2 separate regions of the Homo sapiens genome follow, and region 2 is linked to region 1. Evidence: fine-mapped expression QTL. A gene starts in region 1. The other region holds a variant in brackets. All regions are shown on one strand. Distances are from middle to middle. Region 1 holds the start of GJB1 (gap junction protein beta 1). Region 2 has its middle 35 kb from the start of NLGN3.

The links. PIP is the estimated chance that this variant, and not a neighbour inherited with it, causes the effect.
Region 2: its variant is fine-mapped to the expression of GJB1 in stomach (GTEx, PIP 0.90).

Annotation. Positions count from the first base shown.
Region 1 is chrX:71,220,269-71,225,268 of GRCh38, reverse strand. It overlaps GJB1 (gap junction protein beta 1), which reads right to left and starts at 2,045. Exons shown (of 2, transcript NM_000166.6): 1 at 1,934-2,045; 2 at 1-1,577. The coding sequence starts at 1,561. The coding sequence ends at 710.
Region 2 is chrX:71,177,374-71,182,890 of GRCh38, reverse strand. No RefSeq gene overlaps it. Among named protein-coding and RNA genes, the nearest start is that of NLGN3, 35 kb to the right of the region's middle. RefSeq lists enhancers at 419-508, 558-852, 909-958. The variant G/C (reference allele first, on the strand shown) is at 2,104.

The DNA.
Region 1 (5,000 bases):
CCAGCTCATCCTGGGGGAGGTCAGAGGTTGCAGGAGAAAGAACTTGACAAACACACAAGCCACCTCTTCATTTACTGTAAAATCCTGTTTAATGTGTAACATTTCAGGCAGAGAGAGGCCTTGGGGACTAGAGGCAGAGGTGGCCTTGACCAACCCCTGCTCCAACTTATCTGCCTGCTTCTCTCTCCCTAACTCCCTCACCCCAGACACCTCCTCCTTTTCCTTGTGGCCAGCAAGCACTATTCCTCCTTTACTAGTGCTGGCCACCCTCCCTTCTCCACCCACATGTCCACAGCACCCCTGCCCTCTGCTCCTCTTACCCACATCCCTCCTCACTGATGTGACTCCAGAAACAGGGTATCTGACAGCACAGGGTTAAGATTAGTTTCATAATTGGAGACGCTGTCGGAGCATCCCATCTCTTGTACCCAGTGGTCCCAGAGAGAGGGAGAGGGAAGAGGGAAGGGTGCAGGCAACAAGGGCAGCCCACACTCCCAGTAACCTTGAGCACTGGCATAGGTGGCCTCTAGCTCCCCACCCCTCCAGCTCCTCAAAAGGAAGGCCCCGGGAGGAAGGGAAGTAGCCAGGGAAGGAAGGTTTTGATCGAGTAATCCCCAGCAGGCAGAGGCCTGTGCACCGGCAGGGGAGAAGGAGGGGCTCGCCCAGGGCAGGGTCGGGGGTGGGATGGGAGGTTGCCTGGTATGTGGCATCAGCAGGCCGAGCAGCGGTCGCTCTTTTCAGCCAGCCCAGCCCCGGTGCCAGGGCTGCGGCGCAGTATGTCTTTCAGGGAGCCATCCTGCTCACTCAGCAGCTTGTTGATCTCATTCTGCTTGTATTCAGGTGAGAGGCGGTGGCCGAAGCCCGAGCCCTTGCGGGAAGGTGGATTGGAGCGGCGCTGGGCTCGGCGGGCACAGGCCCGGATGATGAGGTACACCACCTCGGCCACATTGAGGATGATGCAGATGCCAGAGGCAGCTAGCATGAAGACGGTGAAGACGGTTTTCTCGGTGGGGCGGGACACGAAGCAGTCCACTGTGTTGGGGCAGGGGTAGACGTCGCACTTGACCAGCCGCACCATGGCATAGCCAGGGTAGAGCAGATAAAAGACATACATGAAGACGGCCTCAAACAACAGCCGGAACACCACGCTGATGACATAGGTCCACCACAGTGTCCCTGAGATGTGGACCTTGTGCCTCTTCACCTCCTCCAGGTGTAGGGGGTCCCCATGGCCCTCAAGCCGTAGCATTTTCTTCTCTATGTGTTGCTGGTGAGCCACGTGCATGGCCACGAGGAGAGCTGGGGTGGAAACTAGGATGAGCTGCAGGGACCACAGCCGCACATGGGAGATGGGGAAGAATTGGTCATAGCAAACGCTGTTGCAGCCAGGCTGGAGTGTGTTGCAGATGAAGGAAGATTTCTCATCACCCCACACACTCTCTGCAGCCACCACCAGCACCATGATTCTGAAGATGAAGATGACCGAGAGCCATACTCGGCCAATGGCAGTAGAATGCCGGTTCACGCCACTGAGCAAGGTGTACAAACCTGTCCAGTTCATCCTGCCTCATTCACACCTGCAAAACACCAGCCATGAAGCAAGCTGTCAGAAAGCTGGGGTGGAAAGTCGGGCGCCATAGCACTGCCTGCGCACCCCCCCTCAACTCTTCCAAGAGCCAGTAGCAGGAAAGGAAGGATGGTCATGTCTTTCCTCGTCACCCCATCTCCCTTGCCAGCTTCTCCTCCTCCTCACTCACTTGACTTGACCTCCCTGAGCCCCATCCCCCTTCTTCGCTTTCATCCAACATTCTTTTCCCGCCAGCCCCTTTCTTTGCCAAGCCCATCTTGTTCCGATATCAGCCATCCCCTATGGCTCCCTGTCCCCTAGCTCCTTAACTCCAGACCTGGGGCAAACTCAACAAAGCCCTCTTACCTTGGGGAGCGCCTATCCCTGAGGCCACCCAGACAGGTCCCCTATGGTCTCATGTCTGTGCAGGGGGAGTGGTCCCTGGGCTCCGCGCCTGCGTCCCAATTCATCACCGCCCGGTGCTGGGGAGTCATATGCTGCTTTATACCCAGTGTCTGCACAATGAGACCTTTGTGGGGCTCTGAACAACGCCCTTTAGAATTCAGATCAAACGCCCTGACTTCCGCCCACCCTACACACAGAGCACTTGTGTCCCAGCGCCGGACACCCAGCCTGCACCCACCTGTTCTGTGCCCGCCCGGTCCATCGCCGCACCCGCCCCATAGCCCCACCAGAAGAATGGCCACGGGGGGGCGGGGGGAGGGAGATAAAACACAGGCAGGTGGATGTGAAGAGGGGACCCCAGGGGACCCAGAGGCTCTGGGCTGAGGCCCTCCCCCATGGCCCCGTCAGAAGCTTAAGGTCACCAGGATTTTCCCTGAGGCTTAGATCCTCTCCGGAATATGGAGAGGAAAGAGGACAGGAAAGAGAGCTCATTTATGAAGCCACAAACTGTGCTGAGCGTTGTTCCATACATTTTTTCTTTCGACCCATTTAGGAAGCCTGTTATCCCATTTTCCAGATGAAGAAGCTGAAGCTCAGATAAGTAACTCCTCAAGGTCACACCGTTCCAAAGCGGTAGGATAGGTAGGATGAAACAATGTATCTGAGACAGAAGTCTTTCTACAGCAGGCTCCCTGTGCTTCTGCAGATAGTGTCTGTAGAAAGCAAAGGCTAACCATTAAAAAAAAAAAAAAAAAAAGGCTGGGCGCCGTTGCTCACGCCTGTAATCCCAGCACTTTAGGAGGCTGAAGTGGGCAGATCACTTGAGGTCAGGAGATCAAGACCATCCTGGCTAACAATGTGAAACCCCATCTCTACTAAAAATACAAAAAATTAGCCGTGTGTGGTGGCGCATGCCTGTAATCCCAGCTGCTGGGTGGGAGAATCACTGGAACCCAGGAGGCAGAGGTTGCAGTGGGCCAAGATTGCACCACTGCACTCCAGTCCGGGCGACAGAGCAAGACTCCGTCTCAAAAAAAAAAAAAAATCTTCTCAGGAAAAGATAACAAAGTTGCTTTGGGGGAATAAATGGTCTGTCAAACCCAAGATCTCTCCTTTTTCTCCCTAATGCTGTGGGTTGTTTTTTATTAGAGGGTGGGGACAAGGTCTGGCTATATCACTAAGGCTAGAGTGCAGTGGCACAATCACTGCTCACTGCAGCCTTGACCTCCTGGGCTCCAGCGATCCTCCCACCTCAGCCTCTCAATTAGCTGGGACCACAGGTATGTGTCACCATGCCCAGCTAATTTTTCAATTTTTTTTTTTTGTAGAGATGGGGGGCTTGCTATGTTGCCCAGGCTGGTCTTGAACTCCTGGGCTCAAGCGATCTTCCCACTTTTGCCTCCCAAAGTGTTGGGTTTACAGGTGTGAGCCACCTTGAGCAGTCCCCAATGCTGTTGTTGACCTATAGGGTCTGTCTGAGACCCCATTGCTGCCCAGCCCCCAACCCCAAGTGCATATTGCAACCTCGTGGTTTCAGGAGCTTGCCAGTTGCTCTAGGGAGGAAATTCTCCTCTATCCCTTAGGCAGGCTAAGAAGGCTTCTCCCACCTCTTGCCACTTCTGCCATTAAGTTGCAAGGAGATCATACTAGCAGCAGGAAACTGAATGTGAGGAGGACATGCAGCCCTGGACCATAGGAGGTGCAGTGATCCCTGGAGTCATTTCCTGACCCCAGTGCATGCTCCACAGCAGAGCAACTGGTTGTGGAAGAAGCCTCATATTCAGCCCTGGGTGGTCCTCTATGCTGTAGAGGAAAGGGGTGGGGTAACAGCAACTGCAAAAGTTGGGAAATGGGATGAAAGAATCTGGGGAAAGAAGGACAGTCCACAGGACATAGGTTACTTCTCAGAACAAGGTTTCTTCATTTAGCTAAATAAATAAATAAATAAATAAATAAATAAATAAATAAATAAAAAGCCTTAGTGAGTTCATGTCATGTGCCAACCAGCATGGGGAAGCAGGGCTATGGGTGCCCTTTCTCCCAAGCCTGGGATTCTATATGCAAAGCTGCTGCACTAGGCACCACAGTTAGCCATAAAGAAATGCTTCAGGGGCTGGGCAAGGTGGCTCACGCCTGTAATCCCAACACTTTGGGAGGCCAAGGCGGGCGGATCACGAGGTCAGCAGATCGAGGCCAACATGGTGAAACCTCGTCTCTACTAAAATTACAAAAATTAGCTGGGTGTAGTGGCATGCACCTGTAATCCCAGCTACTTGGGAGGCTGAGGCAGGAGAATTGCTTGAACCCAGGAGGCGGAGATTGCAGTGAGCCGAGATTGCGCCACTGCACTCCAGCCTGGTGACAGAGCGAGACTCTGTCTCAAAAAAAAAAAAAAAAAAAAAAAAAGGAAAGAAACAAAGAAAGAAAAGAAATGCTTCAGGTGGTGAGATGTGTTACACTCTAGAACAGGTGGCCAGAGAATTATTAAGAATAACCGGCTGGGTGCAGGGGCTCACGCCTGCAATCCCAGCACTTTGGGAGGCTTAGGCGGGCAGATCACTGAGGGGTTCAAGTCCAGCCTGACCAACATGGTGAAACCCCGTCTGTACTAAAAATACAAAAATTAGCTGGGTGTGGTGGCGGGCACCCGTAATCCCAGCTACTCAGGAGGCTGAGGCAGGAGAATTGTTAGAACCCAGGAGGCAGAGGTTGCAGTGAGTGGAGATCCCGTCACTGCACTCCAGCCTGGGGGAAAGAGTGAGACTCCGTCTCGGAAAAGACGAACAAACAAACAAACAAACAAACAAACAAACAAACAAAACCTAGGCCAGGCGCAGTGGCTCACGCCTCGAATCCCAGCACTTTGGGAGGCTGAGGTGGGTGGATTGCTTGAGCCCAGGAGTTTGAGACCATCATGGGCAACATAGCATGACCCTCGTCTCTATTATATTTAAAAAAAAAAAAAAAGGCCGGGCACAGTGGCTCACGCCTGTAATCCCAGCACTTTGGGAGGCAGAGGCAGGTGGAT
Region 2 (5,517 bases), 43 kb after region 1:
TGTTAGTTCAGTCTCAGCTCCCTACTTTTCTTACTCCCCCTTCCTTTCCCCCTCCTCCTATTAACGACTGAAGGTCTGTTTCCTCTTTAGGGCTGCAATTTTGCATTTGCAGCCCCCGGCAAAACTGTCATACGTGCCCACCGCAGGTGCCCACTGCAGATGCCCGAGACCCAGAGAAATGTTTGTAAACTTTCAACCCTGACTGTACTCCCCCGGACTCCTCCCTCAGTGGGGCCGGCTGTTGGGGCAAGGCAGCTGACCTTTGCTAGGGACTCAGAGCTGCGGGGGTTCTGGAATTGAACTGGAAATTGAGTGGCAAAAGCCCCGCTGTCGTTTCTCCTGCCCCTGCTCCCACCCCGATCTTGTGGACGAGAAAAAGCTCAAAGAACAGTGAGGGGTTAAGCTCCTTATAAGGAAATGAACCTCCTCTTTCCTGTACGGAAATTGTGCTTTTTGCTTCTATATGTTCAAAATACACTGTAAAAAAACGATCCTCGATAGGATTCACCAAATCCACTTCCCTAGGGCGAGGCGGCGGAGGTGGGGGGTGGGCGTCGAGTGGGAGCGAGGAGAGAGAGGACGGGAGGGGCGGGAATCAGGCGAGTGTGTGAAGAATTTGAGGGATGAGTCATCAAAAACAAACTGGGAAAGGGAGCGGAACTAGTAATCCGAGCTGGGAAGCAGACGAACATTCATTAGACGCAGATCGTGTCAATCACGTTTGCTCCGCAAATGACCTGAGAGCCTGCCGGGCCTCTCCGACCGGAAAAAGGGTTTTGGTGGGCGGTCTAAAGATTTTGAAATCGGAAAAGGCAGATTGCTAGCGAGCCGTCAGAGCAGCTTGCCGCAGCTCAGGCGGGCTCCGCAGAAAGATGGCGTTTGCTATCAAGGTCACATGGCCACTTTAGGGGACTAAAACGAAATACTAGCTGAGAACAACAGGAACTGCCAGCACAGGATCAGATTTTCAGAAGCAGTCTCAATTCTAAGTGTCTTTTTCTAATTAGAATCGTAAGCACATTTTTTTGTATTTGTCCGAACACATGTCCTAAGTCATCAAAACTATGTGAAGGGGTGGAGTTTCACTGGGGGTCTTCTCTTTCCGGGAGCCTGAAAAGGATGGGAGGAGGGTGGGGGAAACCCAAGGGCCAGGGTAACCGCAGAACCGGAAAGCAGCACGTGCCAGGACAGAAGGCACCCACTAGGGTCTCTGCACTGAGAGCAGTATGGGAAACCGATTCCACCAGGGACTGTGAAACTCACTAGATCTGTTAGGCTGGTGCAAAAGTAATGGCGGTTTTTGCCGTTAAAGGTAATTGCAAAAACCGCCATTACTTTTGCACCAACCTTCAGGTTCGGGTCTACGCAGCTTTGTCTAACCTCTGACCTCTCATGAGTTGGGAAAGGTTACCCTGGCAAAAAAGGATTTGCTTAGGTGCCCTATACATTGTACCAGATAACTTCCTCTATGATTTTTTTTTTTTTTTTTGAGATGGAGTTTTCACTCTTGTTGCCCAGGCTGGAGTGCAATGGCACGATCTCGGCTCCTTGCAACCTCCGCCTCCCGGGTTCAAGTGATTCTGCTGCCTCAGCCTTCGAAGTAGCTGGGATTACAGGTACCTGCCACCACATCTGGCTAATTTTTTGTACTTTTAGTGGAGATGGGGTTTCACCATGTTGGCCCAGCTGGTCTCGAACTCCTGACCTCAGGTGATCCACCTGCCTCAGCTTCCCAAAGTGCTTGGATTACAGGCGTGAGTCACTGCGCCTGGCCTCCTCTGTGGTTAAGCTTTATTTATTTATTTATTTATTTATTTATTTATTTATTTATTTATTTTGAGATGGAATTTCGCTCTGTCATCCAGGCTGGAGTGCAGTGGTTCAGCTCAGTGCAACTTCCACCTCCCGGGTTCAAGCTATTCTCCAGCCTCAGCCTCCCGAGTAGCTGGGGTTACAGGAGTGTGCCACCATGCCCAGCTAATTTTTGTATTTTAGTAGAGATGGGGTTTATTTTATTTTTATTTAGTAGAGGCAGGGTTTCACCATGTTGGCCAGGCTAGTCTCAAACTCCTGACCTTAGGTGATCTGCCCATCTCGGCCTCC[G/C]TAAGTCCTGGGATTACAGGTGTGAGCCATCAGGCCCGGCCAACTATGGTTAAACTTTAGTTGATACAAGATAAGAAATGTGAACACTGTAAGCCCATTTGTTTGTGTGTTCTCTTGTTACCTCTTTTGGTTACTTTCTTATTCATTAGTGTCCTAGCAAATGTTACTTTTCAAAAATTGCAGCCTTGTCTTAACTAAAAGATAAAAAGGAATTTGTTTACTTCTTAGCCGGTACAGTTAGAGGGCATGCACTCTGGCAGCCCTGTAATATAGGGACCAGGGAAGAACTGAGGCAAATAAAAGTAGTGATCCATGAATCGAAGCATTCAAATCTAGCTGATGGTTTCTTTCTTTTGCACTTCTGCCATTTTCATGCCCCTCACCTGCAATTGACAATCCAAACTGAGAGCTGGTCCAGGATTCTCCAGCACCCAGAAGAGCCTGAGTGGGCACAACAGAAACTCAGACTTTAAGGGTACCTAGGAATGGAAGTAGTAGCAGAAGGATTAACCTTTTCATTAGCTCAGTCTTGTCCTTGCTCAGCTCTGGCCATCCCAGTTCAAGCCATCCCCTCAAACTATGCTCTACTAATACTCCTTTATAAGTTATCATCAGACCACTCCAGTTTTTGTTTGTTTGTTTGTTGTTGTTGTTGTTGAGACAGAGTCTCAGGCTGTCGCCCAGGCTGGAGTGCAGTGGCGCGGTCTCGGTTCACTGCAACCTCCGCCTCCCAGGTTGAAGTGATTCTCCTGCCTTACCCTCCAGAGTAGCTGGGATTACAGGCACCCGCCACCATACCTAGCTAATTTTTGTATTTTTTGTAGAGACGGGTTTTCACCACGTTGGCCAGGCTGGTCTCAAAAATTCCTGACCTCAAGTGATCCGCCCACCTCGGCCTCCCAAAGTGCTGGGATTACAGGTGTGAGCCACCGCACCCAGCCTCAGTGTCAGTTTTATTGATCCTTTTGAATCTATTTAGGAATGGGGCTTGAGGGAAAAGGGGGCCACCATCTGTTCTGTTATCTGAGGCACCGTTTCTCCCTCCCCTAACCTTTAAGAGGGGCTGTAGGAATTCTAAGTGTAGTTTCAATAAACAGGTTTCTTATGGAGGAGCTATTCTAGCTCAGTCGTTCTAGAATAGTATAGCCCACTCAGGAAGAAACAACATTTAAACTTGAGCTCAGGGGGAACAAGACTCATTTACTGCTCCTCCCTTGGCCACCCTAGACAATCATGACAATTTCTCTTGGTCACGTCTGAGAGAGAGGTGTTGTAATAATCTTTTGTGGATACTCAAGTCATCATAAGAGAATGTGTGGGGGTAGAGAGAGAGGGACATGGCAAACCCAGTCCTGTAGTATTCTGGGGAAAGTACTCTGGGGGAAGATACTCTATTTACCCCAGGGGTACTCTAGGGAAAAATATAAACTTTGGTAACATAGGAAAGGATGGCTATGAGGCCTGGTTCAGGACTTTCCCTTTCCTCCTCTTCTTTTCCATTTACACAGACCCCAGAGTGCCTCTGAATGGCTGGTTCTATCCTACTGGAAGGAAGATAGCCCCATCCCTAGATGCTGGGAAGCAGTTCAATGCTCTTGATTTAGGAAGGAGGGGGAAGGCGGCTTCTACACAAGGGCGCTATATTCTGTCTCGGACACCAGGTGGCACCAAATCATAACCATAGGTCCGAAGAAACCATCAGGAAATGGACCTTGAGAGCCCTTGAACTATTTTCCTCTCCCTCCCCACTCCCCACATGAAATTGAAGAATATGAAGCCTTTCAGATATGGCAGATGACCCTCCTTCAATGAAAACTCTTGAATTCTTAAGCCAGAGCCACTTCCAGCTGAAGATTTTTAGGATTTATTATTATTATTTTTTGAGAAGGAGTTTCACTCTTGTGGCCCAGGCTGGAGTGCAATGGCGTGATCTTGGCTCACTGCAACCTCTGCCTCTGGGTTCAAGCGATTCTCCTGCCTCAGCCTCCTGAGTAGCTAGGATTACAGGTGCCCGCCACCACACCCAGCTAATTTTTGTATTTTTAGTAGAGACAGGGTTTCACCACGTTGGCCAGGCTGGTCTAGAACTCCTGACCTCAGGTGATCCACCCGCCTTGGCCTCCCAAAGTGCTGGGATTACAGGTGTGAGCCACCGCGCCTGGCCGATTTTTAGGATTTAAATGTGGCATTAGTCCCTGTTCTTCCCAGAGACCTATTTTTCAGCTTCAGAAAAGGAAAAAGGTGATTTTCCTAGAACCTTTCTGGATGCCACCACCCTCCAGAAGAGTTGTTTTTCTCCAAGGAGGTCAGTTGAACAACAGACATGAGACCTCAGAGGCTCTGCTTAAATTCTAGTCCTCCTTCTGAAGGACTGAATGCTCTACCCTGGGCATGCTGAAAATGACCGTGTCTAAAAAAGTTGTGATGTGGCTGACCAGCCTCATTACTTCTTACAATCAAACAGGCCTGCTTCCAGCACCGCAGACGCGTTCCATAAATACCCATCCCTAGACTCCTCCACCTGGAATGCTGTCCTCTCTCAGCCGTGTCCATCTGTCAGATCCATCCCATTTGTCAGGGTACAGATCAAACTCTTTGAAGCCTCTCTTTTGGTTCCCCCCAGTCTGAAGGGCCTGCTCCCTCTTCTGAATTACTGTAATAACTTGGGCCATTTTGCCCTGTTATACTTTATACCACGGCTATTTGTGAACATATCTCTGCTACAGAACTGTGAGCTCCCTGAAGGCAAAGACTATGTCGTATTTATCTTTTTATAGCCTATACTGAGGAACACAGTAGGCACTCAGTCATAATAATAATATCTGACATTTGTATAATGCTTACAGTTTCCGAAGCACATTCACATACATCTTCTCATTTAATCCTTACAACAACTCTGTGAGGTAGGTGTAATCGTCCTGTCCCTATTTTACAGATGAGCAAACAGACTCGGAGATGTTAAACCCTTCAACCAAGGTCATCCAGCTAGGAAGAGGCAGAGATGGATCTGAATGCAGGTTTTCTGACCCTATAGTCCAGTTATTTCAACTTTCTACATCTGAGCTGTTGGTTGGAAAATTCCTTCTTGGAGACTGAAGCCACAGGGCTCATCCTGGGGGCTGGGGAGAAGGGAGGAGAAGATCTAAAGGTCAAACTCCTCTCCTTTCGTTCCCACTCCCTTCTCCTCCCCACTCCCTGTTTCCAAAAAGAATTTCAGAATGCAGTCTTGTTTTGTTGAAGAATGCCCTGGCGTGAGATGTCCTTGTAGATAAGAAGGAAAAATGTGGGGTGAAGACAGGACAGTTGGGTGTATTCACAGCTGGTGACTAATGGATCTTTGTCAGCCTGGAGGGAGGTCCTTTGCCTAGCCAATAATTTAATTAATGACTTGGATGAGGACATTGATGACGTGCT